Homo sapiens: one gene and its partners. The protein of the gene in region 6 interacts with the protein of the main gene of each other region in a biochemical or structural test. Each region holds a gene or a part of one and is shown on either strand. Other genes may lie near its edges. The genes, in order: LIMK2, FRMPD2, SHANK1, INTU, PTPN4, MAP2K2 and DLG5.

The links.
Region 1: the proteins of MAP2K2 (region 6) and LIMK2 interact in a test that uses a peptide from one of them, tested with the Homo sapiens proteins (one large-scale study listed by IntAct).
Region 2: the proteins of MAP2K2 (region 6) and FRMPD2 interact in a test that uses a peptide from one of them, tested with the Homo sapiens proteins (one large-scale study listed by IntAct).
Region 3: the proteins of MAP2K2 (region 6) and SHANK1 interact in a test that uses a peptide from one of them, tested with the Homo sapiens proteins (one large-scale study listed by IntAct).
Region 4: the proteins of MAP2K2 (region 6) and INTU interact in a test that uses a peptide from one of them, tested with the Homo sapiens proteins (one large-scale study listed by IntAct).
Region 5: the proteins of MAP2K2 (region 6) and PTPN4 interact in a test that uses a peptide from one of them, tested with the Homo sapiens proteins (one large-scale study listed by IntAct).
Region 7: the proteins of MAP2K2 (region 6) and DLG5 interact in a test that uses a peptide from one of them, tested with the Homo sapiens proteins (one large-scale study listed by IntAct).

The regions. Positions count from the first base shown.
Region 1 is NC_000022.11:31,263,827-31,268,185, reverse strand, and holds part of LIMK2 (LIM domain kinase 2), read right to left. Parts: intron 2,241-4,359; coding exon 2,054-2,240; intron 1,203-2,053; coding exon 1,116-1,202; intron 411-1,115; coding exon 279-410; intron 43-278; coding exon 1-42. UniProt on the Homo sapiens protein: Serine/threonine-protein kinase that plays an essential role in the regulation of actin filament dynamics. Acts downstream of several Rho family GTPase signal transduction pathways.
Region 2 is NC_000010.11:48,180,491-48,184,849, forward strand, and holds part of FRMPD2 (FERM and PDZ domain-containing protein 2), read right to left. Parts: coding exon 4,284-4,359; intron 4,193-4,283; coding exon 4,076-4,192; intron 519-4,075; coding exon 313-518; intron 1-312.
Region 3 is NC_000019.10:50,667,464-50,671,822, forward strand, and holds part of SHANK1 (SH3 and multiple ankyrin repeat domains protein 1), read right to left. Parts: intron 1,823-4,359; coding exon 1-1,822. UniProt on the Homo sapiens protein: Seems to be an adapter protein in the postsynaptic density (PSD) of excitatory synapses that interconnects receptors of the postsynaptic membrane including NMDA-type and metabotropic glutamate receptors via complexes with GKAP/PSD-95 and Homer, respectively, and the actin-based cytoskeleton.
Region 4 is NC_000004.12:127,723,144-127,727,502, reverse strand, and holds the end of INTU (protein inturned), read right to left. Parts: 3' UTR 766-4,359; downstream 1-765. UniProt on the Homo sapiens protein: Plays a key role in ciliogenesis and embryonic development.
Region 5 is NC_000002.12:119,765,964-119,770,322, reverse strand, and holds part of PTPN4 (tyrosine-protein phosphatase non-receptor type 4), read right to left. Parts: intron 1-4,359. UniProt on the Homo sapiens protein: Phosphatase that plays a role in immunity, learning, synaptic plasticity or cell homeostasis. Regulates neuronal cell homeostasis by protecting neurons against apoptosis.
Region 6 is NC_000019.10:4,096,286-4,100,644, forward strand, and holds part of MAP2K2 (dual specificity mitogen-activated protein kinase kinase 2), read right to left. Parts: intron 3,130-4,359; coding exon 2,916-3,129; intron 1,059-2,915; coding exon 994-1,058; intron 1-993. UniProt on the Homo sapiens protein: Catalyzes the concomitant phosphorylation of a threonine and a tyrosine residue in a Thr-Glu-Tyr sequence located in MAP kinases. Activates the ERK1 and ERK2 MAP kinases.
Region 7 is NC_000010.11:77,919,579-77,923,937, forward strand, and holds part of DLG5 (disks large homolog 5), read right to left. Parts: intron 1-4,359. UniProt on the Homo sapiens protein: Acts as a regulator of the Hippo signaling pathway.

The DNA of each region.
Region 1 (4,359 bases), on a different chromosome or scaffold from region 6:
TCCTTTGGCAAACCTGACCTTCTGCTGCCAGGGGAACGGATCCTGCAGAATGGGGAATGATTTTCAGAGGCTGTTGAGCCCTGTCCCACTCGTGGTCCAGGCCCCATGGGTCAATGTGGTCTCCCAGTGAAGCCTCCCTGTGTATGCTCAGTCCCACCCAGCATGGTCCTTTGGAGGCAAAGCAGGGCCCCTCTGCCCTTTAAGCTCCTAGGGTAGTGATAGCATAGGTGTCTGACAACCCACCAAGGCTCCTGGAGACTATGGGGTGGTGTGCTCACCATACTGCGCAGAAAGTCCTTCAGTGTGCCCCCCTCAATGTACTCTGTCAGGAGGTTCAGCTTCTTATCCTTGTACAGCACACCAATGAACTTGAGCACATTGGGGTGGTCCAGGCTGCGCATCACTTTCACCTGGGGGTGGGGGAAGCCAAGGAAAGCTGGTGGTTAACTTCTCACTGTCTTCCTTACCTCTTCCCTCCAAGGAATCAGCTTGACAAGTGTTACCACCTGTATCTCCTACCTCCTATCTTGTGATATGACAGGGCACTAAGATCAGGATGAGGGAAGACCACCACCATATAGATGGAGATGGCTTCATAGGCCTTACCCTTGGAACTGCATTGGGAGAACTGGGGTGGGAGTGGCCAAGTGGCTTGGAGGGCAATACCCAGACCACAGGTGTCCCCAACTTAAGTTACTCCATGAAGTAACTTGGGAGGGGTAGTGAAAACTGTAAATGCCCAAGGAGTGTGAGTGCTCAGGGAGCTCCCCTCCAGGCTCCCTTAGCAGGGCGTTCAGGTGAGGATTATAACATTGAGTTGTACTAAATTGGAGTGTTTTCATGTCCATCATCCTCATAACCTGAGAGCTCTTCTGAACCCTGTATCTTTTGTTACTGCATCCCTTGTACCCTGTTTGTGTTGCTTTTAGTAAGTGTTCATTGAACAAATAATTACGCTGTAATTTAGAGGGAGTGGGATATTCCTCTAGGGCTCTTTTCTGCTTAGTCTTTAAGACAGTAATTCCAAACTGTATTTTCTCTTGAAGCCATTATTTGTAAGGTCTTCTCTCTTCCAATGGTGACACCAACCTCCCGGGCCCCCTCCATCTTCTTACCTCAGTCAGAAAAGTTTTCTGGGTCTCCTCATCACATCGAATTAACTCTTTCATGACCATCACTTTGCCCGTGGCTTTGTGTGTCACCTACAGGGAGGGTGACTGTTAATGGTGCTGAGACCAGAGGAAGTTCTGGAGAACTGTTTGAGAAAATCTATGCAGCTGGCCATCCCATCCCTTGGAGGGCACACTGAGCCGGGTCAGAATGACAGAGTTCATGTGTGGAAGATGCAGCGTGGAGCAACATGGGACTCACACGGAAGCAAACCCTCTTTCCTGGAGAGCTGGGCATGCACAGAGGACAGGCAAGAACCCAGAAAAGGGAAGTGGGGAAGAAGGCAGGAGGGGATGCTGCCAAGCCAAGCAGGGGCTCTGGTCATTTGGCATAGAAGTGAGTCTCCTGAGTGAACAGAAGTCTGGGGGCAGGAAGGTCAGTGCCAAAGACATGCACCAGGGAGCTGGGTGGATCGGGGGTGAGCTCTCCAGCCCTGCTGCCCCCAAGCTGAGACACACGTCTTACCTGACCCCCCCTCCCAGTTCTCAGCAGAAGAGGAGGAGGAGGAGAGAAAGAGAGAGGTTAGTCCCTGAGACTGTTCACCAGGGAGGCAGGAGCCATTCCCCTGTGTGCTCCTTGTAGCATGCCCGGTACTGAGGTCTGCAGGCACCTAACAAACACCCACTGACTGGAGGCAGGAGGGCCACAGGCACAGCTCAACCCAACCTGGATCTCCAGGTCCACAAGCTCACTGTAACAGCAACATTGACCTTAGGTGGCCTGGGTGGGGGTGAAGGATACCTCTCACACCAACACCCAAAGCCAGGAAGGAGGCCTGGCATCCTGCATGGTGTGGGGTGGGGCCAAGTGATGAGAAATCCCCGAAAGACAGTGACAGAGGGACTGGGGGCAGAAGAGCAAAGCAATTGTTGCCTGCGCTCACCTTGATAGCCTGCCCAAAGAAGCCCTTCCCCAGGACCTCCCCATGGATTAGGTCACAGGGCCGGAAGATCTGCTGTGAATAGCTGCTGGAACAACGAAGGGATTCTGAGCGGCTGATGTCACGGCTGAACAGCAGGGGCTCCTTTGGGGAGCTGGGGCCAGGGGACTTGGAGATACTGTTACTGCGCCTGAAGATGAGGAAAGACGGGAGTAGGGATGTGTAGTCCTCAGAGACCGGCCAAGAAACCCTGGAGGGAGGAAACTTAGGGGCACCTGTTCATTCCAATGTCTATAGTTTAGATGTTATTATTGGGGAACAGGGGCTCTTACATCAGATGTATCATTTTGGGGTTGCTGACATCAGTCATTTATTTAAGCATAGTAAAAACACATTCAAAATGGGAACTCTGCATACATCACACATAGAACAATTAACTAGATTCTACTAGCTGATAATGCTCAGTATGTGACATATATGACAACACTGTAGATGGTAATTCACCATCTCCCATATCTGCTTGATTTAAGTACTAACTGGTTTAGAGTGATAGTTATACTAGTATCCAAAAAATGAGCAAATGGGATTTTTTTTTTTTGAGACAGAGTCTCGCTCTGTCAACCAGGCTGGAGTGCAGTGGTGTGATCTTGGCTCACTGCAACCTCTGTCTCCCTAGTTCACCTGAGTCTCATGCCTCCGCCTCCTGAGTAACTGGGACTACAGGCATGTGCCACCAGGCCCGGCTAGTTATTGTTATTATTATTATTTTTGAGACAGAGTCTCGCTCTGTCGCCCAGGCTGAAGTGCAATGGCACGATCTCGGCTCACTGCGACCTCCGCCTTCCAGGTTCAAGCGATTCTCCTGCCTCAGCCTCCCAAGTAGCTGGGAGTATAGGTGCACGCCACCACGCCCGGCTAATTTTTTTTTTTTTTTTTTTTTTTTTGATGGAGTCTCACTCTGTCGCCCAGGCTGGAGTGCAACGGCGGGATCTCCACTCACTGCAACCTCTGCCTCCCAGGTTCAAGAGATTCTCCTGCCTCAGCCTCCCAAGTAGCTGGGATTACAGGCGTGTGCCACCACAACCGAATAATTTTTGTATTTTTTTAGTAGAGATGGGGTTTCACCATGTTGGCTAGGTTGGTCTCGAACTCCTGATCTCGCGATCCATCTGTCTCGGCCTCCCTAAGTGCTGGGATTACAGGCGTGAGCCACCACACCCGGCCCTAATTTTTGTATTTTTAGTAGAGATGGGGTTTCACCATATTGGCCAGGCTAGTCTCAAACTCCTGACCTTGTGATTCGCCCACCTCGGCCTCCCAAAGTGCTGGGATTATAGGCGTGAGCCACTGCGCCCAGCCTAATTATTGTATTTTTAGTAGAGATAGGGTTTCACCATGTTGGCCAGGCTGGTCTCAAACTCCTGACCTCAAGTGATTTGCCCGCCTCGGCCTCCCAATGTGCTGGGATTACAGGCGTGAGCCACCGTGCCTGGCCAGCAAATGGGATTTTGGATGATATTTTGCACATCTTTGTACCTGTCCATGTTTCCTGAATTTTAAGATGATAAACACGTATGATTTTTACAGCAATAAAGTCACTATGTTTACATTTTCAAAAGCGGTCGATAATAGTCATGGTCAATGACTGTTATTTTCACTTACTGAAGAAGGAACAAGAAGGTTGAAGTCCACAGCACTGCAGGTGAACAGCCCTGCGAACTTTCTCTCTGGGGTATGCTCCTGCTTTACTTGGGCTACCCAGAGAGGACTGACGCTGGATGGCTCTTGGCTTGTCCCGACCTACAGGTTTACTTACCCTTGTCCTTTTGCTCTGCCTCCTGCTGACCATGCCCACCAGAGCACACAAGGCTAGCTGCCCCCCTCCTCTGCATGGTGGCTCTACAGATACCTGGCCACTCCCAAATCTTCCCTTTTCCAGGCCATGGATTTCTAGCTCTTCCCTGCCCTCTGTTGCCCTGCCTCCCACTAATTTCATCATACTGACCAAGGCCAAGAGGCAATGGGAGTGAGGGCAGCACTTTAATGAGAGGGCACTGTTTCCAACACATGCCAGCTGAGAGGGCTCTAACTTACTCAGTTTGTTTGGTGAGGAGAGTGGATAAAAAAAAACAAACTTTTTTTTTTGGAGACAAGGTCTCACTCTGTTGCCCAAGCTGTAGTACAGTGGTGTGATCAAGGCTCACTGCAGTCTTGAACTCCTGGGCTCAGGCAATCCTCCTCCTCAGCCTCTTGAGTAGCTGGGATTACAGGCATGTGCCACCATGCCCAGTTAAGTTTTTTATTCTTTG
Region 2 (4,359 bases), on a different chromosome or scaffold from region 6:
AATTTCCTCATGGTGCTATTATCACAACAATTATAATTAGTGACTAAAGACTCCAGAGGCACCCACACTGAGCCTGTGCCCAGACACTGTCCTAGAACTCTGCCTTCTTCTATGCGTTTTTCTCAACAACCATGCCATGCAGGCATTTGCTTCTGTATGCAAATGAGGAAGCTGTGGCTCAAAGGGGCTAAGTAACTTCCATCCACCTGACATGGAAAACAGAGAACAGGAAGGGCCTAGGGGCCAGGCTGTTGGGCTTCACAGTCTGTTCTCTTTCATCCAGATCTAGAAAGTAAACCAAGGGATGATTACCTTTAACGGCAGAAAGGAAAGCTGATGTCTCAGCCTGGGCACTAAGCTCTGCACCCCAGCCATGTCTAGTTCTTCAGTATTTCTGTCCTGGTCTTGTGTGTGTGACAACAAACTTCCCTGGTACCCGAAGCTCAGGATGTCTGTAGAGGAGACCCCAGAATTGGCTGTGCTATTCTTTTCTTCATCTGGGTTATTTCCACCAACACCTATAAAAACAAGCCAAGAAAAAGTCAACAGCTTAAAAAGGCCGGTTTCTTGGTGGCATCTCTATGTGGGCACAGCGTTTTCCTCCAGTGACAGAGTGATCGTTTATAGCTGCTCGGGTACAATATGAATTTAGCTCCTCCTGAAAGATGTTACATTTAGATTAGAGAAAGGGAAGATTCTACATGGGATTTAGAAACCTAGATAGAGCTTACGTGACCCAACTATGAATGCGTAGGCTCAAAAGAAGTTCATAAGGCCAGCTATCCCTTATTAAGCTCTAGCCATGTGATGGGCACCTTAGATATACATATAGGAAGATATGGACATCTTCCCATCTTCTCAGCAAACCCACCAGGAAGGTGTAATCCCAGTTCAAACATGAGAAAACAGAGTCAAAGCTATTAAGTGTCCTGCCCCAAATGCTACAGCCAGCATGTGGGAACTGTCTTAAACCCAGCCTCTCCTGGACACCCCACTGAGCACATCTGCAGCCACCATGTGATCCAAAAACCAACGTATCAGGTCCTTTTGGGAGGCTTGGTAATAACCAAACTGCAGGCCCCTGTGAGTGAAAGCTAGGCCACTGATTCCTGCTCACCCTGTGTCTGACTCGTGACCTGGCATAGAACAAAGAAAAGAACGTGAGGTTGTGAATCAGTAGAAAAACCTTGGGCAAGGTGCTTAACATAACTGAACCTAAATTTTCCTGTATCTAAAGTAGAGATAATATCAATATCAATAATATTGTAGAGTTGGTGAGGCTTAGAGATTATACGTACAGAAAAGATTTTACATATGTTAAGAAAGATAAAAATATATATGTATATATGAAAGAATATATATTCCCTCATATATATATATATATATATGGCTCTCATACACACACACACACACACACACACAGACACGCACAGCTTAGTACATGGTAGAGCCTCAATAAATGTATCTACTGTTAACATGTTATTATTAGCTGCTCCACAAATATATGTGGGAGGAATGAATAACAGTTAGATTTTCTTTAGACCTGGATACAAGTAGATTTACTACTTTTGATACAGACTCATTAACACTCAGGGAAGTGCCCAAACTCACATGCTGAATGAATTCAATTTAAATAAATCTGATTTAATGAATTTGATTTGAAGTTATTCAAATCTAAAGGTATCCAGCAGGGAGTGGCAGGGCCACTGTTTCATAATGCTGTATTTCTGGCCCTTTCATTCACAGATTCTGTCATCATTGTCCTTCTGGCAGTGTCATAAGCATCGGCTCATTCTCTTCCACATCCTCCATGAGAGGTGAGGATGGGACTTACGATTGAAATGAAAAGTCAAACCATGCTGCAACTGGTGTCCTGCCTAGTAGACATATGAGCTGGGAGACCTTTTTTGGTAAAGGAAACTCAATTTATTGTAGACCATGACAGATGCTCATGATGGACATTTTATCTGTCTGATCCTGATCTCCAATCTAGCCCAGCTGCCTTAACAGCAGCCTAAAGAGATAGAAGAAAGTCATGGTAGTCAAGTCTCTGCCACGGAGACCCAGCCAGCATCACCAAGGAAACATCTTCCTCTGGCAGTGGCCCAGCTATGAGGAAACCCCACCATGATGAAGGCAGCATTGCCAAAAGGTGGCTGGGGTGCCACAGTGAAAGGACATTTTATTCCCAGCCATTGTGGGAAACTCATTGTCTGGAATTCTAATGTGAGGTTGTGGTTTGAGAATAGCAGACCTCGAGTACTGCTTTTTGACAACCTCCATCACAGCAGGCCATCCTTGGACTATGCTGAATTGTGATTTGGTCACCTGCATTGTGTTTCCTGACAACACATGGGATGGTTTGACTGCTCCTGTCAGTGGAGGATGTGGAAGAAAACACAGGGATTGCTGAACCACTGCAGAAAGGAGAGCAGTGGTGCTGGGAAATCCAACAGACAGCAAGCCAGAGACTGGCATTGGAGATGTACTGAGGCCAGTCCCTGAGAAGGCTTCAACCCCAGGATGAAGGGTGTGGGGCTGAGACCCCAGCATGGCCACCTTCCACCACCCATAGCTTCTGGACAGGGGAGCTGCATGGCACTGTGTACAGGTACAAGAGTGAGAGAGCATGCATGCAGAAGTGTTCAGAAGGCAAGGCAAATGCAGTGCCTGCATTTAGTACCTAGAAAATGCTGGCTGGTGTGACAGGAAGTTCTCCTGTATACAAGGGAAAACTGTACAACACCCCTCAAGTGTGAAGAAGCAATCATGAGCCTGAATTTGCAGGCGGTCTGCTGTTAGTTTACAGGATCACCCAACCAAAAAGCAGCATTGGTCTCAGGAAACTAGGGAGAAGGGATGTTAGCCTACTCCCATTACTTCCTCCAGGCTCCTCAAGCTTGGTCCCGATAAAAACAATAGTATTTTCCTTTAATATAGGCAGTTGTTGCTCTCTCATTCTTATCTAAAGGATGAAGAAAAGCATCATCAAAAAGTACTTTACTCTTTAGGTTGATCAGGAACATGCACATCAAGTAAGAAGAGCGAGCTTGCCACGAAAATTCAGCTTTAAGAAAAGGCCAGGTGCAGTGGCTCATGCCTGTAATCCCAGCACTTTGGGAGGCTGAGGCGGGCAGATCACTTGAGTTCAGGAGTTCCAGACCAGCCTGGCCAACATATTGAAACCCCGTCTCTACTAAAAAATACAAAAATTAGCCGGGTGTGGCAGCGCGTGCCTGTAATCCCAGCTACTCAGGAGGCTGAGGCAGGAGAATTGCTTGAACCCAGGAGGTGGAGCCTGCAGAAAGCCAAGATCGTGCCATTGCACTCCATCCTGGGTGAAAGAGTGAGACTCCATCTCAAAAAAAAAAAAGGAAAATCAAATACCGCATGTTCTCATTTACAAGTGGGAGCTAAATAATGAGAACCCATGATCACAAAGAGGGGAACAACACACACCAGAGCCTACTTGAGGGAGGAGGATGGGAGGAGAGAGAGGATCAGGAAAAATAACTATTGGGCACTATGCTGAGCACCTAGGTGATGAAATGGTCTGTATAGCAACCCCTGTGACACGAGTTTGCCTGTAATAACAAACCTACACATGTAGCCCTAAACCCAAAACAAAAGATTAACAAAGAACAGTGCTTGTCTCCTCCCCAGCTGATTGCTATACCTATACAAAATATAGAAATTTTGTATAGGATTCTATACAAAATATAGAAATCCTGGAGCCGACCCTATCAACAAGGACTTTGGGTGGCAATAAAAAGGTCCTCCCTGCCATGCAAGGAGAGTTGACAGAAAAAAAAAGACTGGTTGTATCCAGCCGTGTCTAACAAAATTAGAGTAGGTTACTCCCTTTCAGCAAGACAAGCATGGTAACGCCCATTCTGCCCCTGAAATTGCAAAGCTTATTAATTTGTGCCACTACACTGCTTCTTTGCAAGCCAACACCATGAGGAAAGCAATATAGAAGACCTACGTGGACTTCAAGGTCTAGTACCTCACAGTAATCATGTACTCCTGAAAACAGGGGAGCCTCTTAAGCTCCCAAGAGTGGGTTAAAACATACCTTTTGACTGAGAAATAATTAATTCTATGTTGTCAGGGGAATTCTGGATCATCCTAACAGCCATGTTGAATGTGAAGCCCTCCAGACTGATGTGATTCAGGGCTAGTATCTGCCCTCCTAGAAAAATAAAACATCTCAATAATCCTTCAAGGAAATAAAAAAGAGTGGTTTCTTAAAACAGCATCTCTAGTAATTTAAAAAGATGTACCTGGTTTGATCGTTTTTGCTTTTTCTGCTGGTCCTCCAGGTATAATAGAAGATATAAAAATGCCAGGGTCAGCTTG
Region 3 (4,359 bases), about 47 Mb from region 6:
TGGCAGTTTTCAAGGAACCGCACGTGCAGCGGCAGCCGCTCGGGTTCTTCGGGGGCTGCGGACCTCCAGGGCTTGCTTACTCCGGGGTGCGGGGCCGGGGGCTCCGTCCCCAGCTGCAGCAGGAGGGGCCCCACCCCGGGAGCGGTGGGCGGCAGGCGGTGTAGCAGGGAACGCCGGGCGGCGGGCGGGCTGGCGGGAAGGGACTTCTCCTGGCTGCCCAGCCCGGCCCTGTACCCCAGCTCCCGGCGCGCAGGGTCCGGCGGGGAGGCCCCCCAGAGACGCAGCACTGGCTCGTGGTGGGCGTGGGGCGAGTGGTGGTGCGGGGTGGGCGGCGGGGCCTCGTAGCGGGGCGATGGGGGCCTGGGAGGCGGCTGGGGGGCCCCGCCGCCCTCCGAGGACTCCTTCAGCGCTCGCTCGCGGGCGGCCAGGGCCAGCCCCAGCGGGGAGGCGGGATCCAGGGCCTTGCCGGTCAGCGGGTGCACCAGGGGTCGCGGGGGCAGGAAGCTGGTGAAGGCGCTGCTGCCCCCGCCACCCCCGTAGGCTCGGCTACCGGCCCCGTAGCCGCCGTAGCCCGCGCCGCTGCCCGCAGACTCCAGTCGGAGGTAGGGCTCGGCGGAGAACATGCCCTCGTCGATGGATTTGGAGTGGCGCAGCCGCGGGCCCGGGGCCGCCCCTGTGCCCAGCCCGCCGTCCCCGCCGTCCTCGTCCCCCGCGTCGGTGGACAGGAACAGCGTGGAGCGCCGGCGCGCCTCATTCTGCCAGCCCCCCTCCCTCCGGGCCGCCCCCACCAGGGCGGCCCCGAACTGGCTCGTGAAGTCCAGCGTGGCCGGGCCGCTGGGCGAGGCGGGGGTGGGCACGGGCGAGGGGGACGGGGGCACGGGTGACATGGCCGGGGCGGGGCTGGGCGAGGAGCCGCCGCCGCCGCCGCCTCCCGTGGGCTCCGGCTGGGTGGGGGGCTCCGCCTCGGTGCTGCTGCCCTGGCTGCTGCGGCCGCTGCTACTGGTGGACGGGGCCTTGATGATGATGGTGGGGATGGGGATGGAGTTCTTCTCCGAGGGCGCGGCCACGGCGGGCGGCGGCTGCGGGGAGGCCGGGGACGTGGGCGACGGCGCGGGCGGGAGGCCGCCGCCCTTCTGGGGCTCGCCTTCCACCTTGGTCTGCTTGACCAGCGGGCCCTTGCGGCCGCGGCCCGAGCGGGCGGGCACGTACATGGCTGCGCTGGCCGCCCGCGGGGGCAGCTGGAAATAGCGTAGAGCCGGGCCCTGGGAGGAGCCGCCGCCCCCGCCCGCGCTGCCGTGGTGCGATGGGGACGGGGCCCCCGGGGTCGGGCTGGGCCCGCCGCCCCTCCAGCCTCGCAGGCTGGGCTGGGGCCCCAGAGCCAGGCGGGGTGGAGGGTCGTCGGGAGAGCCGCCTGTCTCCATCTCGGGAGGATGAGGGGGGTGGGCGTGGTGGTGGTGGGGCTGAGGGGGCGGGGCGTGGTGGTGGTGGTGGTGGGGCGGGTGGTGGTGGGCCGGGGGCAGGGGCCCACTGTGGTACAGGCTCTTCTCGCGGCTCCCCACGCGAGTGTCGGGAGGGGAGGGCCCGTCAAAGGATGCAGGGGAGGAGGCGGGGAGGGGGCCACCAGAGCCAGGGTTGAAGGGCCCTCCCCGAGGGGAGGGGGTGAGGCGCCCTGAGGAGGAGGGGACTGGAGGTGTGCTGTAGGGAGGCTCCGGTGGGGACGTGGTGGGTGGCGGGGGAATGTCCTCCGAACCAGGCACAGACAGGCTGCGGCTGAATTTCATGGCTGGGGGTGCTAGGTAAGGTCTGTCATCTTCTGCCGCACCTGGGGAGATACAGAGGCTCAAGGAGGGGGACCCTGGCGGGGAGGGTCTCCCTGCTCCACTATCCCATAGAACCGCAACAATACTAATGACAAGAATGGCACCCCGTATATGCCAGGAACTTCACGTGGACTCGCCCAGCTCTTCCCTATTTGAGGTAAACCCAAATCTGCTTCATACAGAGGTACAGGTTGTGCACTGCACAACTGCAAACCGCAAGGAAGGTGAGGAAACTGAAATTCAGCAGAACTTCCTCCCCACGCCAGGAGGGGGCGCCATTTTCTAATTCCGTTCAAAGGCTCAGTGAACGGTTTGGGGCCAGCAAAAGTGGCTGGAGCTGGGAAGGGATAGTCCCCTCGTGTTTATGCATAGATGCGTGTTTCTTTTCACGTATATGCGGGAAAGAAATGCAACCAGCACATCAAAGCTGTGATTCTACAGAGAGAACCACTTATGATGAGGCTAAAGTTTAAAAGGGATTGGATCTATAAAAAAAAAAATCAGGTAAACGATGCGAGCCAGGTGGACCCCACACTCAGTGGGAGTGTAAGACTCACACTGGTGGACTTTGAACGCCAGGAGTTGGGGAAAGCTGAATCCAATCAGGGAAAAACAACTCCAGGAGGCGTGCAGGAGTTAAGTCTTTGCTTACTTCACTGCCAAGGCTCGGTCTTTGAACCTCTTCTCACCTCTGACTACTCCCTCTCAACTAGTGACCAGCTTCATTCACTGCCTTTCTGCTGTCGACGCCCACGTTTATGCCTGGGGCCCCATCCTCCGCCCTGAGCTCTGGGCCCCTATATTCAAATACCCACACCCAGCTGGCTGTCTCACGGGCATCTCAGACTCCAAACGCTCCAACCCAAGCTCCTGATCTCCTCACCAACAGACTCCTCCCAGCCCACGGTCCCTCCCCACCACCGCAGCAAACAGCAGCTCTGTCCTTTCAGGTGCTAAGACTGAAAACCTTGCAGCCACTCTTAGCTTTCTTCCTCAAGTCACCCACATCCAATCCACCAGCAAATCCTGTTGTTTCAAAACATATCCGGAATCCAATCCCTTCTCACCCCTCCAGAGTCAACACCCTGGGCCAGCCACTATCATTTCCTATCTGGATAGCAATAGCTGTCACCTCCTCTTTGGTCCCCCGGCTTCCCAGCTCATCCCCTTCAATCTAGTCCCTTCACAGCAGCCAGAGGGTTTCTGTTAAAACCGAAGTCAGCTCATGTCCCTCCTCTGCTTAGAGCCCTGCCATTCACTCACCTCACTCAGGGCAAAGGTTCAAGTCCTCACCATGACTCCCCAGACCCTGCAGGATCGGGACCCTGTCCCCCCACTGCCCTCATGTCCAGTGCTCACTTGGCCCCTGCTACACAGGCCTCCTCCCTGTTCTGTAAACGCACCAGACTCAGCCCGACCTCAGGACCTTTGCAGAGGTAGTTCGCTCTGCCTGGAATGCCTCAACCCCAGGGAGCCTCACGATTCCCCACTTCATCTCTAGGTGTTTTTTTTTCTTTTCTTTTTTTTTGAGACAGAGTCTCGCTCTGTCGCCCAGGCTGGAGTGCAATGGTGCGATCTTTGCTCACTGCAACCTCTGCCTCTCGGGTTCAAGCTATTCTCCTGCCTCAGCCTCCTGAGTAGCTGGGATTACAGGCACATGCCACCACGCTTGGCTAATTTTTGTATTTTTAGTAGAAATGGGGTTTCATCATGTTGGTCAGGCTGGTCTTGAACTCCTGACCTTGTGATCCGCCTGCCTCGGCCTCCCAAAGTGCTGGGATTACACGTGTGAGCCACTGTGCCTGGCCCATCTATAGGTTTTAGCTCAAACCTGCACCCTGCCCCCTACCCAGCACTCCCTATCTCTCTTACCTTACTCCATTATTTTTTTTCACTCTTTTTTTTTTTTTTTTTTTTTGAGACAGAGGGTTGCTCTGTCGCCCAGGCTGGAGTGCAGTGGCACGTTCTCGGCTCACTGCAAGCTCTGCCTTCCGGGTTCACGCCATTCTCCTGCCTCAGCCTCCTGAGTAGCTGGGACTACAGGTGCCCGCCACCACACCCGGCTAATTTTTTGTATTTTTAGTAGAGATGGGATTTTACCATGTTAACCAGGATGGTCTCGATCTCCTGACCTTGTGATCTGCCTGCCTCGGCCTCCCAAAGTGCTGGGATTACAGGCGTGAGCCGCTGCGCCCGGCCCACTCTTTTTTTTGTTTTCCATAGCACGTACAACTGCTAACATACTAGATAATTTTCTTGCTTATTTTCCTTATAATCCATTATCTGTCTTCCCCTGCTATAAGGCAAGCCCATGAGGGCAGGAACCTTTAGTCTGTTTTATTCGCTGACGTATCCCCATTCTAGAACAATTCCTGGCATGTGGGGAGCGCTTGGTAAACACTTGTAAAATGAATGAATGGATGGAATCGGGTATAAGAGAAACAACCAGAAAGCTGTAGCGGGGGCTTTAGCTCACTGCATCCCCATTCTCCAGATGTAGAGCCAGAGGCCCAGAGAAGTCAAGCCACCTGCCCCAGTT
Region 4 (4,359 bases), on a different chromosome or scaffold from region 6:
TCTCACTCTGCACCCAGACTGGAATGCAGTGGCAAGATCATGGCACACTGAAGCCTTGAACTCCTGGGCTCATGTAATTCTCCCACCTCAGCCTCCCAAGTAGCTAGGACTACAGGCAAAGACCACCATATCCAGCTAATTTTAAAAATTTTTTGTGGAGATGGGGTCTCCATATCAAGACAAGCCCAAGCTTGTCTTGAACTCATGGACTCAAGCAGTTCTTCCGCCTCAGCCTTTCAAAGTGCTGGGATTACAGTAGTGAGTCACCGCGCCCAGTAGCTTTTTAACCTTATTAAAAGCACTAAATCAACTCTTCAATAGGTCGGAGCTGAAACTGAGTAATTTACTGCATTGATTTTACTTACTGATTAGGGAAGGAAAAAAATTCTAGTGATTTATGTTAACATTAAAAGTAGAGTTTCTGGATCTTTGTTCTGTTCACTTTGCTCTCCGGAGAAATCAGCATGATTAGTTTCCTCACTTCAGGTCTGCAGTCAGCTCAGCATCCCTTTCCTTGGTCACCCTGTCTGCCACATCTTACATCCCCTTCTCTTGCTTTACGATTTTTTCTCTCAGCATTTACATATTTTACTTATTTATCTTGTCTGTGGTATGCCTCTCCCATTGGAACATAAACTCCATGAGGGCAGGAATTTTTAGCTGTTTTATTCATTGCTATAGCCTCTGCCTCCACATCAGCGCTTGGCACAGGGTAGAAATGCAATAAATACATGTTGGATGAATGCATGAAAAAGGCAATACAACTGCAAACAAACCTCCAAACCAGTTTTATTTAAAACTATCAATATAGTATAAAAGTAGCTTTAATTACATAGAATATAGAAACACAACTGCAAAATTAAATTATTTCATACAGTTTTGGTGCATAAAGTTTCAATAACATTTAACAATTTAAAAATATCCAAAGTATAAATTCTTGTTCTGAAAACTGTTTATTGATAAATGATTTTTCTCAGCTTTTCCCCTACATTTTGTACAGTAGCAGGTATGATTTAGCTGACTACTTGGTTTTTCAACCAATGGATATTTAATAATGATAATAATAAATGGTAGCAGTAGTAGCTAACACTTTTATAGCATGTAATATGTGCCAGGCACTGTTTAGAGAGAATTAACACATACAATTATGTCCAAAGCAGAAAAACCTAGTAAATTGGTTTCACAGCTTTGCCCATTTGTATTAGAAATATAAAAAAGCAGGTATTACAAAATGCTATCTTGCCATTATACAGCATCATCAATAGTCCCTTGGCACAAATAAGAAACATTCCCTTACTAGGTACACTTCTTTGGCAAGACACAAACAAGAGCTAAAGAAAGGGGAGAGGGAGAGAAAGTAAGAGTCTAAAATGTAATTTTGGGGGGGCTAAACATATGATAATGAGACAGTATTTGATATTTTAAAAAATGCTAGCTATATATAGTTTTTCACATTAATAGTTGTTGGTGGAAGGGAACATTTGCATACTAATAAAATCCAATTTAACAACGTTTCTATGTCTTCTAAAGCATATTTCTAGGATATCTGCACTGTCATCCTGTCCCCCTTTATTTAATAAAGTAACAGGCACTTTATTGTCTGATAATCAGTTTGATGTTTCAGATGTGATTCTGAACATATTTGGAAAAATAGGCAGCTAAGTTTGCCTTCAGAGCTTAGTTCAATATCCATTTAGAAATGAAAAAATAAGATGTGTGATTTTATTTCTTAAAAATGCAGTGCCTCTTTAACATGGAAATTACAGTGCACATCTACGATACAGCAAATAATTTTCCTTTTATTAAGATCAGTAGTCTGCTCTGCCTTTTTATTTCCATTATTGAGCGATGGTCTCATGTTTCTCTGACACCAGGAAAGCAGTTCAACACATCAAAATTTCATTAAATGAAACAAAAAGTCCCCTATGATAAAACCCTACCTTAGTTCAGTTTGTATGAAAACCTGAGGTGATCAACAGCTACGTTTATTCATAATTATCAGTATTAGAAGTAGTTCATGGTATTTTCAGGGACATATCCAGAAATTTAAGACATTTAATAAATTGTTTTAACCAAAGTGTCTTAATACATATATATGTAAATAAGCAGTCCTAAGACAGCAGTTGTGAGTCAAATGGTAGCATATGACAATATTGTGATCTTAAGGGGAAGGTATTTCAAGCTTTTTTGTTTTTTAAACAGAGCCTCGTTCTGTTGCCCAGGCTGGAGTGGCAGTGGCACGAGCTAGGCTCACTGCAGCCTCTGCTTCCTGGGTTCAAGTGATTCTCCTGCCTCAGCCTCCCAAGTAGCTGGGACTTCAGGCACCTGCCACCATGCCCGGCTAATTTTTTTTTTTTTTTTTTTTTTTTTAGTATTTTTAGTAGAGACAGGGTTTCACCATGTTGACCAGCCTGGTCTCAAACGCCTGACCTCAAGTGATCTGCCTGCCTCAGCCTTCCAAAGTGCTGGAGTTACAGGTGTGAGCAACTGTGCCTGGCCTCAAGCTATTTTCTGTAGCATTTCAAGAACCAAGGTTTTTTACCCTAATTTGAATGCCAAAATTAAGGCCCACTAGTCACTAATGGGACAAATATGTAGTGGTTTGCAACTTAAATGCTTAAGTGAAAATCTCTCAAACTGTGACACAGTGATAATAGTGTTTCTTTTAAGACCAAATGACTCAAATGGTACACCCAGTGTTTTGCAGTTAGTTTTGACTAAGCTGGACAGCTCATATTTAAGATGGAAAAATGTAGAGACCGATTTTAGATGTGCTGGTATAGCTTGTATTCAAAGCTTAAGACCTGGAGAAGAAACAGCTCAGTGTTGGAATGTCTTGGGGGCATCGAACCTCTAGGAGGATCTACAGGGTAAATGTCAAGTAAAAATGCAGTATTGATGTTCTTCCTTTCTCTCAATCTACCAAATTCTCCCAGCCAAAGAAAATTCTCCACCATTAGTTTTCTTTTCCAACTAAAGGTCAAGTAAACTATTGTTCACTAAAGTGTTCCCCCTTTGAAAAAACCCAATGCATAATGATCTATATTTCTAAGATAAAAGTTAGTATTTTTTTTTTTTTTTTTGAGACGGAGTCTCATTCTGTTCCACAGGCAGAAGTGCGGTGGTGTGATCTTGGCTCACTGCAACCTCTGCTTCCTGGGTTCAAGCGATTCTCCTGCCTCAGCCTCCTAGGTAGCTAGGATTACAGGTGCACACCACCACGCCCAGCTAATTTTTGTATTTTTAGTAGAGATGGGGTTTCACCATGTTGGTCAGGCTGGTCTCGAATTCCTGACCTCATGATCCACCTGCCTCGGCCTCCCAAAGTGCTGGGATTACAGGCGTGAGCCACCACCGTGCCCGGCCAAAAATTAGTATTTTATAAAAGAAGTCACCATAGAATTTTAGTTAACTTTTTCAGTGTCTTTAACATGATTTAGCTTTAAAAAAAGATTTACATGCAGCTTTCCTGAAATTCATGAATTATATAAAATGCATGTGAAATATACTTGAATGTGATTTTTTTTTTTGAGACAGGGTCTCACTGTGTTGCCCAGGCTAGAGTGCAGTGGCATGATCATAGCTCACTGCAGCCTCAACCGACTGAGCTCAGGTGATCTTCCCACCTCAGCCTCCCAGGTATCTGGGACTGTTAAAAGAGAGTGCTACCACACCCGGCTAATTTTGGTGTTTTTGTAGAGATGGAGTTTTTGCTATGTTGCTCAGGCTGGTCTTGAACTCCTGGACTCAAGTGATCCACCTGCCTCAGCCTCCCAAAGTGTTGAGATTACAGGCGTGAGCCACTAAGCCCAGCCGCTGAATGTATTTTAACAAAAACAAACAAAAAAAAATAAAGTTGACAAATAGTTTAAAAAATACATATATATACACACACACACATATATATATCCTAGTCAAAATTGAGCTTACCTGAAACTTAAAGAGAATCAAATAAATAAAAAGTAAGTTTAATTTTCATCTTTCCCCCTTTCCCCACAGTGAGGTATGTACTAGGATAGTTAAATTAACGAAAAGTATCTGATAAGGAATAAGTACTTGGACATTACTAATTTAGGAGGTGACCAACATGCAAGAGGCAAAAAAAAAAAAAAAAAAAGTAGAACAGAGAGCCCAGATGGTCAAAGAGAGGCAGCTCTGCTCTGCAGCTCCCACCAAGAAGGAAGAAAACTGTGAGTCAACTCTGCATCTTCAGTTGAGATACTGAAGTTCTCTTATTGGGACTGCTAGGTGGCTGGCATGACCCACGGAGAGCAAGCAAACAGGGTGGAGCAAGATCCCATCCAGGAACTGCACGCAGCAAAGTGAACTCCCTCGTCCAGCCAAGGGAGATGGTGAAGG
Region 5 (4,359 bases), on a different chromosome or scaffold from region 6:
TATACACTGCTGTATTAATTAAACATTGACTTATCTGTACTTATTTTACTGTAGACTAACATAGTTATCTATGACTTATCTGTACCATTTCTAGCTATACACTAGATTTCAAGTTCCTCTGAAGAAAGAACAATAATCTTGATGATAAAGAGCATGTCTTATTCAATTCTGTATCCCCACAGCCAAGCACAGTGCCTAGTACCTAGCTGGTGCTCAAAGAATACATTAAATTAGCCCTGGATTGGATTTCCCTCTAAAGTCACCTCCAATTTTGGACGTAATTTTTAATTGTATTGCTAGTGACTCGTCTATATACAAGAATATACTTAGAATTCGTGTTTGTATAAAAATGAGCAAAGAGAAGCTCTTTACACAACTGTATAACAAAAACACAAGATACAAATTTAACTAAAAACAAAATAAACAATGACCCTTGGATTACTCCAAAGACCTACCAAAAGATGGCATTTAAAATGGGAGCAGGCAGCTATCCCAGATACATATCAAAGTTCACTCAGGGCATTTTTTTGATAGTAGGTGTTGCTAATTAGTTTTGCTTACCCAACTTTAAAATAACCATTACAGTTTCCTTCTCTTAATCCCAACAAATGTTAAGGTGTATGTAACCCTTGAAACGCAAAGGTATTTTTCTTGATGCTGTCCCCTATTCTTCCATGACCTGAGATCTTTTACCTCTATGGCAAACTTCTCGAAGAGCTGTCTCATCTATATTCATTGTACACTTGGTTTCCTCAATTTAGTTTATTACACTCTTCCACTATAACTCTTCTGCTAAAGCAACAAACCTCAAACTAGTACACCTCAGAAGAACCTTAGCATTTCAGCAGATTTTCCCAGGCTACCACTTCCTGGCTCCCCACTCCCCCTTTTAAGAATCTATAAGGTCTGAGATGAGACCTGGGGAGTTCATATTTTTCATTAGTATCTCCATAATTCTGATACAGGCAGCTCGCCTGAACACACTGGAAAACCAACTAGCTGAGATTATCAATAACTTTCCAACAGTCAAATTCAAAGCCTCTTGGTCTTCTCTTTTTCTCTCAGCAACATGGCAGCTTCATGAAATTCCTTACTTCACCATCATCTAACACACAACCACACTCCTCTCTCACAACCTTTCTTTCAGTCTTCTTCACTGGCTTCTTGATTTCGGAGAGCCCTTAATCTTTCAGTGATGGTAGTTAGGAGCTCTGTCAGTGTGCCTCTTCCTAACTTTATATATACTTCATAAGCAGTGACAGTCCCACCCATTGCTTCAGCTACCATCTATACAACCTTAAATCCTGCCACTTTGGATTCCACAGATACTCAGAGGCTATGCAGTACAGGAGAGAAAAGATGCTTCAGTATCAGACGAATCTGAATGCAAAATATTTACTCAGCTATTTACACAGTAACATGCCTAAAGACACAGACCTTTTTGAATTTCAGCTCTGTTCTCCTTTTAAAACTGGGAATAGCACCTTTCTAACAAATTTCTGTCCTGATTAAATGAGGGGAAAAAGATTAAATGAGAAGTTCTCTTTCCTACATGGACCTGACAGCAAGCTCTGAGGACCCCATGCCACAGGCCTCAGAGGCGGCAAGCAAGGAGAAAGGAGACAACTAATGCGGGGTCGGAAGACTGGCACATACAAGGGGATTGAGCAAATAAGTAAATACACTGAGGAGATAATAGGAACCAATTTATCACTGCTGGAGAAGAGATTTACAAATACAGAAAGGGAAAAGGCTAGACGAATCCTGAGATGTTAGATTGGAATTGGTTGTATCAGTGTGAACTTATAAAATACCTGTACATAGGCATAGAAACAGATTCAGATGTGTGTATACATATATGTATTTCCTAGCTCTATCCCCCTAAAAGTGATGACATGCCAGCAGAAATGAACACACTGAACACTCGGATCTCAGTTCCTAAATAGCATCTCTACTTAAAAAAGTAAAATAAAATCAGGATTCCTTGGAAAAATAAATGATTTCAGAGCTGGGATAGGAGAGTATTAAGATCATCTGGAACATCTTGTTAGGCCAGAAAGTAAGGAAATACACCAAGGAGGGGGACAGGTCAAGGAGATAGAGGAGCCAACTTAAAGGCCAAATTTGGGACAATTTGACCAACAAAATGAAATTTTAAAATGACAGTAACTAATATAAACCACTAAACAGAAACAAATCCAGGAGTATATATTGATATAAATGAATGAATAAATAAATGTATGGAGAAGAAGGAGAAAATCTTCTTTCAGTAGAATATGAACTAATAAATGTAGGTGACAACTTTCACAGTTGTGGCTGATTCAGGTAGCAATCATCAGACCTGAAGGCTCGTGGTTACAGCCTTCAGCTCTATTGACACACTCCCAGATATCTTCTCACATAAGAATTCCCAATTACAAAAGGAAAAAAACGATAACTTCACAGTAGAGAAACCCAGCAGACTTGAATTTAACAGGTGTTCAAAGTTAAACATCGCTAGTAGCAGGACTATACAGCACGTCTCTTAGTGATGTACTAAGAATATCACGACATTATTTCTATGGCATTCCTGCCAACAATGCACTCGGTCTGCACATGAGGAACCACTGGATGAACTTAAGTTGAGGAAAACATGTAACAGAAAAAAAGGACTCTGCTCATTAAAACTGTCAAGGTCATAAAGGACAGGGAAATATTGAGGAATCATTCCAAACTGATGGAAACTAAAAGATGTGACAATTAAATGCAATGTGTGAACCTGAATTGGATGCTGGACCAAAAAGAAAAGAGAGATACTACTGGGATAGTTGGAAAAATTTGAATGGCATCTAGGTTCGACCTGAAGGTAGTGTTATATCAACGTTGATTTCCTGATTTGGCGGTTATGTAGGAGATTGTCCTGTTTTGCTAAATACACACTAAAATATTTAGTAGTGATAGGGATCATGTCTGCAACTTGCTCTCAAATAATTCAGGAAAAAAGCCAAATGAAATTAGAAATGGTGCATTCCCCTGAAATGGAGAAATAAGGATTAAAATGTAGGACCAGAAATGAGAGATGATGAGGTTGTTTCACTGAAATTTGAGGATCCAATTAGATACAGTAGAAAAAGGGAAAGGGCTAAACACAATTCCAAGGTGACCACTTGGGGCATCTGGAAAAGGCCTTACTGAGCCAAGCACGAGGTGTTCCAGGCTCATCTTGAGCTGTGTATACACACGGTACATAGCTAGTACAATGTTAAAAATTAGTTTAAGGCGATTCAGGAGCTCTTTGTTGTACTTTTCTTGAGATTTCTCATTAGGTTTGAAATTATTTCAAAATGTTAAATGAGAACTCGTGACAACTTCGCTGTCTAGCAAAATACCTGGCTCACTGGAAGTGCTCAATAAAAATAATCTGGCCTTCCCTTGCTAAAGAAGGGAAGCTGCCAAAGAAGAAATCCTAGCATCATCTTCAACTCTTTCCCCCCATGTCCAAATGGACTCTCAGGTCTAGTGAAACTACTCAGTTTTCAGTTCTAATCTCATATCTATATTGCCCTATTTCTGGTTCCTATCATCCCTCCCCTGGACCACTGCAACAGCATCTGGTCTCTCTGCTCCATTTCTAACCTCATCCTTGCATTATCCTTGTAACTTTGCATCATTATCTAGAAGTCAGGAGTTACCTTTCAAAACCTGCATCTAATCTTATCATCCCTTATTTAAATACCTCTAAATTGTTCCTGAATGTTAATGCTGATTTCCCAAGAGGCAGACTAAATGCATGTTTAGGGCACCAGTAACGCAAGGGCACCAAAGAGATATTTCACACACACACACACACACACACACAGACACACACACACACACACACACACACACACACACGCGCGCACATGCGCATACACCAGTGAAATGGGGGAGGCAGCGGGTAAAGGGAGGGAAAAAGAGAGAGAAAGAGGAAGGTGACTTAAGAATTCTTAAGTTTACCTTAAGCTTACTTTAGGATTTGATATTTATTTCTGATTCCATAGTGGATGCCAAGGGTGAGTAGGAACCATAAACTTTCTAATACTTACAGTCTCTAAAACAGTGGTTTTCCCAATCCTTTTCCCAACTTGGCAACAAAGAAAATAATAATTTCTTAGCACGTTGGGATAAGCCACAAATGCTATTCAAAGCCAAAAGAAACCATCCTGGGGCAGGGTGGGGAGGGGGATCTGATATGCCCAGGTCCCATTAAACAAGGGTATCTTGCTCTCCGAAACACTGGTAAACCATTCATGGCACACCAGTTGGGAAGCTCTATTTTAAAGGTCTTAAAATGATCCCACTCATTGCCCAAACACAAGGACCCTCACAAGACTTCATTTC
Region 6 (4,359 bases):
GGGCCACCCCACCTGGCTCCGTCATCATCTCGCCACCCAACCCCAGGCCTAGCCCAGTCTGCAGGCAGCTCAAATGCCCGTTTCTCTGCCCCAGCTCCAAAGGGCCACCAAAGACACAGAAACCCACAGAAGGCCCAGGGAGGTGGCCCGGCCTGGTCACGTGGCCAACAGGACCTTGGGGTGCAGTCCTGTGCCTCCCTGACAGCTGCAGGCCTGGAAGGAGGCCGCGTCCCTCCTTGTGCCTTGTTTTACTCATCTGGGCGGTGGAAACCCTCATACTGTGGCTCACTGGGTTGTTATGGGGACTGACGGAGCAGGAGCCACCCCGGGACCTACAGGTCCTTCTAGGCTCTCTGGGCCTCCTTCCAAGAGGCAAGGGCCATTCCTGTACCTTTCTCCGTGGAAGCGGGGTGATTTATGAGTCCACGCCCACGGGCGCCAGGACGCTCTGATGCAGAGACACTGGGCCACTGCTCAAGGGGCAGGCTGGCTCCTCGGCCTGAGCCCAGGGCTGCTGGCACACACCTCCCTCTGGACTCAGGGTGAGAGGCTGCGGTGGGAATTCTGGGTTCGTCTTCATAAAAAAACAATGCCCTTGGGAAGGAGCTGGGCTTGTGCAGCACAGTAGAAGATGGGAGACGCGACACACGTGGAATTGGTTCAAGAATTGCTTGAACCTGGGAGGCGGAGGTTGCAGTGAGCTGAGATCAAGCCACTGCACTACAAAGCTAGACAATGTCTCAAAAAAAAAAAAAAAAATTAGCTGGGTGTGGTGGTGCGCACCTGTAATCCCAGCTACTCGGGAGGCTGAGGCACGAGAATCACATGAGCTTGGAAAGTGGAGGTTTCAGTGAGCCGAGAAGGCACCACTGTACTCCAGCCTTGGTGACTCTTGCTCTGGTCAGAGAGAGACTCTGCCTAAAAAAAAAAAAAAAAAAAAAAAGAAAGAAGAAAGAAAAGGAAAAGAAAAGCCAAAAGGCATCAAGCACAAACCTCGTTCACAATATAGTCCAGGAGTTCAAAGATGGCCATGGCAGGCCGGCTATCCATCCCGTGACCTGCACAGGGAGAGAGATGGAGGTGAGATGGGCCGATGGCCACCTCACTTCTGCTGGGGGTTGGGCTCCCAGGGGGCTGATCACCACCAGGCGCCCTCCTCCACATGCCAGCCTAAATTGGAGGCGGGTGTGCAGAGGCACTGGACAAAGCTCCCCTGCCTGACTCTGGGTTCCATTCCCTGGGACAGCTACTCCTTGCCTGAGCCTCTAGTGAATTAAAAAAAAGGCAAAAGGAACAAGAACATTTTTTGAGAAGTCACACATTTGGCTCGGTGAGGCTTGCCGGACGTGCCAAAGTCATCACCCCTCCTCTCTGGAGGGCAGGGGGAGGGACGGTGCTGACCGCAGGCAAGGACAGCCGCGTGACCTTGCATGGAGCTGCTGGCGGTGATGGGGGCAGGCCCCAAGTGCCACTCAGGACGGGAGACTGGCTAGGGGTGGCTGACCCCTGTCTGAGAACCAGCTGGCCAGGCCTGGGCTTGGCAGCTGGACTTTCGCCTTCTGCCCGTCCTGAAATGGGCAGGTGGGCTGGGGCCCTGGGCTGGGGATGGTATACCACCTGAGAGTTGGGACTGGGAGAGGCTGAGGCTAGGCCTGAGGATAAGGACTTGGGGGCCTCTCCCTGGGATGAGATCAAGACATCCCAGCAGTCTGGCTGGAGAGGAGGAGGTGGGCTTGCCAGTGCTATGAAAATCTCCTTCTCACAGCCCCAATCCATCCGGGTAGGACCACAAAACGTGGCCTGTTCGTGTCATAAAATACTACTCAGCCTTTCAAAAGGACCCAGGCTCTGACACGCACCATGGCGTGGATGACCCTTGAGGACACTGCGCTCCAGGAGAGAAGCCACACACAAAACACAGAAGGCCACACAAGTGTGTGACCCCATTTCTGTGAAATGCCCAGGACAGGCCAGTCCAGAGGCAGGAAGGGGATGGAGAGTGACAGCTGATGGGGACAGGGTTTCCTCTTGGGGAGCTGAGAAGGTTCTGGAATTAGAGGTGATGGGGCGCAGCACTGTGACTGAAAACCACTGAACTGCTCACCTGAAATGAGTTGTGGGGTGTGTGCTTTGTAGTTCGGAAACATGGTTTTAAAACCAACCACAGTCCGCTACAGGGTCCTTTGGGGTCTGACGCCACCAACTCTCCCTGATGTCTGACTTTAAAAAAAATCACAGGACCCTCCTGTGATTCTGCACCAAGCAGGGTCCGCCCCCGGCTCTTCCCTCAGGCGGTGGAAGTGTCCGCTCGGCCCTCTCTGACTGGCGTCAGGGAGCTCCCGCTCCCGAGGTGCCCGCCCTAAGTGCCGGATTGTCCTCTGCGAGCCCAGCTGTCCCTGGGGCCTGAGCCCTCCCGCCCCCTCCCGGGCTGTGTCCCCTCCTGTGTGTGTTGGGGCCGGAGCCAACAGGCCACTGAGGGCCATGCCAAGTCCAATCTCCACTTCAGGACTCCCTGGAAGGCTTGGCCCGCAGCACAGGAGCGTGTCACCTGCAGAATGCAGGCTCTGTGGCGGCCAATTCCTTCCACTTTTCTGTGCGTTTGAATGCTTTCGGGATAAAATGTTGGAAAATCCAACTGCCCAGGGGCTTGGTGGCAAAGCTGCGCTCCCAGATCCCTCCAGCTGGCAACAACAGGTGCAGCTGCCCCGGACAGAACAGGTTTGGGGTGCTCACTGCTTCCAGCTCTGTCCCCGGAAACCCCAGGACCATGGGAGGACTGCTGACCACAGTCGGCACCATCCAGGGGGACAGGTGGTGCGCCAGGGGCAGAGGGGAGGCAGCTGCTGACCCTGGCACAGCAGGCCCCGCGCAGGGCACTGCGCGTCCAGACCGGAAGTTGCAGATTCAGGCCGTACCGCTGACGGGGCGCCCGGGGGGCCTCGGCCGAGGCGAGATGCTGTGAGGCTCTCCTTCTTCCCCGTCGACCACGGGCCGGCCAAAGATGGCCTCCAGCTCTTTGGCGTCGGGCGGGGGGATGGGGTACCTTCCGACGGCCAGCTCCACCAGGGACAGGCCCATGCTCCAGATGTCCGACTGCACCGAGTAATGTGTGCCCTGCAACCGCTCCGGCTGCAGCAGAGCCAGGGAGGAAAGAGCCCAGAGGGGCGAGGATGGCAGCTGGAACCCGGGAGGCTTGCCCCGTTACAGCCCCCGTCACCCTCTCCATGGCTAATGACCGCAGCAATGGATAGAGAGCTGTTACGCAATTCTACCTCCCGGCTCACCCACCCAGGGCCTCCCTGCGGCACTTGCTGAAGAGGCTTCCAGCCCGAGGCCTGGAGCTGGTGTTGACCGCAGCTCTTGAAGAGCCTGCAATGCTCAGCACTTTTGGGAATGGATGATGGGCCCCAGGAAGCAGGGGCCTCCTCCTCCACAGCTAACATCTCAGAGGCTGCTCCAAGGCTCAATTTGGCAGGTTGCTGAATCCCCAGTCGTTTCCTGAAAGACCCCAGATTCCAATTCCTTGGTCCAGAAATTAACTAAGGGCCGGGTGCAGTGGCCCATGCCTGTAATCCCAGCACTTTGGGAGGTTGAGGTGGAAGCCCAGGAGTTAAGACTAGGCTAGCCAATATGGCGAGACCCCATCTCTACTAAAAACATTTTTTTAAAAGTTAGCCAAGGCTGCCGGGCACGGTGGCTCACGCCTGTAATCCCAGCACTTTGGGAGGCCGAGGCGGGCGGATCACAAGGTCAGATTGAGACCATCCTGGCTGACATGGTGAAACCCTGTCTCTACTAAAAACACAAAAAATTAGCCGGGCGTGGTGGCGAGCGCCTGTAGTCCCAGCTACTCGGGAGGCTGAGGCAGGAGAATGGTGTGAATCCGGGAGGCGGAGCTTGCAGTGAGCGGAGATGGCGCCACTGCACTCCAGCCTGGGTGAGAGTGTGAGACTGTGTCTCAAAAAACAACAACAACAACAAAAACAAAAACCAAATTACCCAGCTGTGGTGGCACATGCCTGTAGCCCCAGCTGCTTGGAAGGCTGAGGCAGGAGAATTGCTCCCGGGTGGGAGGCGGAGGTTGCAATGAGCCAAGATTGTGCCATTGCACTCCAGCCTGGGTGACAGAGCAAGACTCTGTCTCAAAAAAAAAAAAAAAAAAAAAAAAAAGAAAGAAACCTGGTAGGCACTGCTAGAGACAAAAACCTAAGAGAGAATTCCAACAGGAAGGGGAGATCTGGCCGGGCGTGGTGGCTCAGGCTCACTGCTAGTGGAATCCCAGCACTTTGGGAGGCTGAGGAAAGAAGGTCACTTGAGTCCAGGAGTTCATGAGCAGCCTGGGCAATACAGCGAGACCCC
Region 7 (4,359 bases), on a different chromosome or scaffold from region 6:
CAGGGCTTTTTTTTTTTTTTTTTTTTTTTTTTTTAAAGAAAAGTTCCTCAGTATTCTTTTGAGGACATCAAGTTGACATTCAAATTCTATGTGTAGAAAGGGAATGACTTTCTACTCTTAGACAGCGTGGGTGCTCCACATGGCTCCTGGCAGCCAGCTCCACACCACCAGTACCTGATGGGCAACCTTGGGAACTTCAGACATCAATGTCACACCACCTGCTTCCATCACAGACATACCGTGGGCGGTGATATCCCTGTGTACATCTGGGGCTTGCTCAAGCCTTCCTCCTCTCCCACAGCCTCTGCCACCATGAGGTCACCACTTAGGAATCTGCATGTATATTTGAAGATGATCTGGACAAGGATACATCATTCACTCTACACACAGCTGACTATTCATTCGTTCAACAAAAAATTATCGAACACCTATCTTGTACTAGGCTCTATTCTGGGCATGAGGACTATAACAGCAAATTCAGCTCAGGGAGGACAGCTCTGACACCTGCTTGGCATAGTATACAAGGAGCTCCCACAGAACCCTCAGAAACACCAGGAGATTCCCAGTTTTCTGGTTCTAAGGCTAGTTGCTGTCTACTACTGCCACTGTTGTGCTATATTACTCAGGGTAACAAAATGCTCTTCCATTTTTCCTACCATGGATTGTCAAATAGCACAGTGAAGTAGTTAGTGTTTTAATTACTTTGTAGAGGAGATAAGCTCAGAAGGGTTAAAAACCTTGCTCAAGGTCTAAAACCTTGTAAGGTCTGATCATTACTACCTAGACCCACCATCCCACTCCAGCAATGACCGCCTGTGCTAACTGTATTATCGCACAAAGGTGGTAATGCTTGGAGTGGACATTCATCTGCTCTTTTACCTGCGTGACATCGCTGCTGCTTGTCTTCCTTTAGACAACTGCTCTGCCTCCCTCTAAAAACCCACATAGTGTTGGAATGGGCTGCCAATCACAGTAGCCCATCACCTTACCCTGGGGTTCCACTGCTGGGCACAGTGCCAAAGCTGAGCCAGTCTTAGTCCTCTAGCCCTGGCCACAGTGACCGGGCCTCATGTGGACACATAACACTGGCCAGACCAATCAGAATCCTACCATGAGGTTTGTCTGCCTGGGCTGATTGGATAGAGCTCCCTTTCTTCCCTGGTCAGGGGCTGTGAACCTGAACAGAGGGGCCTGAGGTCATGTTCAGACCCGTGGGAAAAGCCCACAGCATCGATCCAAGAGGTCAAACGTCCCAAAGGCCAGTTTCCACCATCCATCCAAAGGTTGTGGAATATTCTAAGTCAATACATTTCTCTTTTTCTACCTAAGATGATCTGAGCTAAGTTTCTGTCATTTTGCAATAAAGGTACCCTGAAATGATACACAGATAAAATCTGCCCTTCACTTAAAAACCTCTTCTCAACCATTAATTTCAAATGACTCTGCCACTTCCTCTTAAATAACACAATTAAAACCACCTAAATTAGCCATGCAGGGTGGCATGCGCCTGTAATCTTAGCTACTAAGGAGGCTGAGGCAGGAGGATGGCTTGAGCCCAGGAGTTTGAGGCTGCAGTGAGCTATGATTGCACCACTGCACTCCACTGTCTCTAAAAAATAAGTAAATAAACAAACAAAAGAACCAAAAGAAAAACCACAACAGCTGGAGCTTTTACTTATGTCCCTTGCCCTGCTGACCCTCCAGGGCAGAGGGGATGAAGAAAAGGTGGCTGGTACCCGAAGGAAGTGGAGAGAGAACAAAAGGCCAGGCAACCTCTGCTGAATAATAAATAACCCACACCTGACAATCAGCACCCATCTGCATTAGTCCCACTAGAAAAGCCTGGCAGGGTTATTCCCTTGGGGAAAAAAAACAAACTTCCAGCTCTAATTTCTGACAGTGTACAATGCCTAAATTCAAACCTCCCACTCAGCCTAGCCATTAAGGTCCTCCAGATTACCTCTGCATCCCCAATTCCCTTCCACCCAGAGCCAAGGCCAAACCCCTGCTCTGCTCAGGCTGGGTAAACACATGGCTCCTCTCTATGGCTCAGCCTGTGCGGTCCAGCCTACGCAGCCCACACGTCCTCCCTCCATGGCTCCATGCATTCAGAGCTTCACTTCAACACCAAGTCCCAGCACATTCGTGAAGCTCTCCTCGGCTTCTCCAGCGGACGCTGCTGGCTCCATTCTCTTAAGTTTGATGAAGCAAGCCAGCCAGTTCACTAGGAAAGTAAAGAGGAGGCACAGGAGGTGTGGGGAGTGGGAACGAGAAGGAAACATCAGGCAATGAGCACGCGAGAGGTCCAGCCAAGTTCTGCCATTTCTGCCTCCCAATAGAGGCCTGGTGGGAATGACTTGAGGAGTCCCACATTTAGATGGTAATGAGAGCCACTAAAGGTGAATGAGAGTATCTGGGGAAAGTGTGTAGCATACCGAGTTTTTTATAAAAGAAAAAGCCTGTTTGTGCATCTCTATCAGTTGACCTGTCTCATAATGTCACTCTCATGAGCGTCCCATTCCCCCAACAAGGCGGCAAGCTACGGACTAGAATTACATCCTGTGCACCCCGGCCCCTGTCTACACCCCAGCCCCACCTGGGCCAGGCACTTCAATGCTCCCGGTGACAGAGGCAGGCAGTGCAGCACCATTAGCCCCATCTTACAGATGAAGATACTGAGGCTCACCCCAGGGGCAGGGAGTTGAGAATCCTCAAGGGAAAAAACTCAGGTGTTTCCCCAAATCAAAGGGAAAAAACAAAGGACTGCATGGGGCTCCAAGTGACCAAGCTAGACTTGGTTACTGGGAAAAACAAGAGACCCAACTGAGCCACTCAGAAGTAAACAATTCTGTCTTCTCCCTACCACCAGCTGGGGCAAAGGTGTTCGCTTGTTCCCCGCAGATCCATGTATCAAATCCGGGACAAAAGAAAGCTACATAATTTCAGAGTCCCACAGTGACTGGAAATGTCCTGAAATTGTAGTGGGAAGGCCTAACCAGGGAACAGGAAAAACCACCCCAGACAAGGAATCAGGGGCACTGGGCTTGGCCTTGACTCAGGCACCTTTCTGCCCTGCGACTTCTTCCTTACAGACAGGGCCCTGGAACCAAAGATCATAAGACACCACTCATCTCCCTGGGGCTGCCACAGAGTTAATGAGATATGAAGATAGGACACAAAATCCTGAATGACAATGCCCTATCAATACCGGAATAAGAGCCACACCTCCAACAAAAAAACCACAACACAGTGTGTCTCCTAGTCACTCCACACCCCCAGGCCTGAGCGTGGTAGGTTTAAATGTCTGGGGATCTAACTCAGCAAGAGTTGCCCCGATGGGTTGGGTTTGCTCACCTGCCCACCAACACCCAGGCACATGTCCTCCCCAGTTTCCTTCCAGTTCCAGGCCCCACGTGGTAGGCTGCTGCCGATGCAGACTCCCTCAGCACCCAAGTGCCAGTGGGGGATGGGCATTCTGGATCAGGAGCCCACACAGGGTGTGGAATCCATCAAGGAAGCTCCTAGGTGGGTGATGGCATCATCTCCAACAGAGAATCGGTGCCAAAGCAGCCACCCCTTGACGCTAAGGATCCCAGGGAGCCAGCTGGTTCCTCTCTCAGGCTCCGCAATGGCCTCGAACTGAGGCCAATTCAAACCCAGAGCTGCTGCCCAGAGCACAGAGTGGAAATCACTCAGGAGTGGAAGGAGGCAGGACCAAGTGCTGGGTTTTCCTGACTATGGCTCCTCAAGGAAGAAGACTTCCATTCCTTCAGCCAGAGCCGCTCTCTTATGCACTGAGCTTTGACCATAAGGAATACTTCCTGGCTAAAAGAAAAAAAAGCAAAAAAGTGGAGACCTACAACACAGCAATTTACCCTTCACAAAGGAGCCTCCCCTGCGCCGGGGCAGTGGCTCACGCCTGTAATCCCAACACTTTTGGGAGGCTGAGGCAAGCAGATCGCTTGAGCTCAGGAGTTCGAGACCATCCTAGACAACATGGAGAAATGCCATCTCTACACAATATACAAAAATTAGCTGGTGTGGTGGCATGTGCCTGTGGTCCCAGCTACTTGCGGGGCTGAGGCAGGAGGATGGCTTGAGACCAGGAGGCGGAGGCTGCAGTGAGCCGAGATTGTGCCACTGCACTCCAGCCTGGGTGACACAGTGAGACCCTGTCTCAAAAAAACAAAAGCCCCCAACACGCCACTGTTTGCTGACACACCATGTCACCCTCTTCCCCAGGGGCTTCAGGTGGCATCTTGCCATACCAAATGCTGTCCTAACTTTTTTCTTTCTTTTTTTTTGAGAAGGAGTCTTGCTCTGTCACCTAGGCTGGAATCCAAGGGCACCATGTCAACT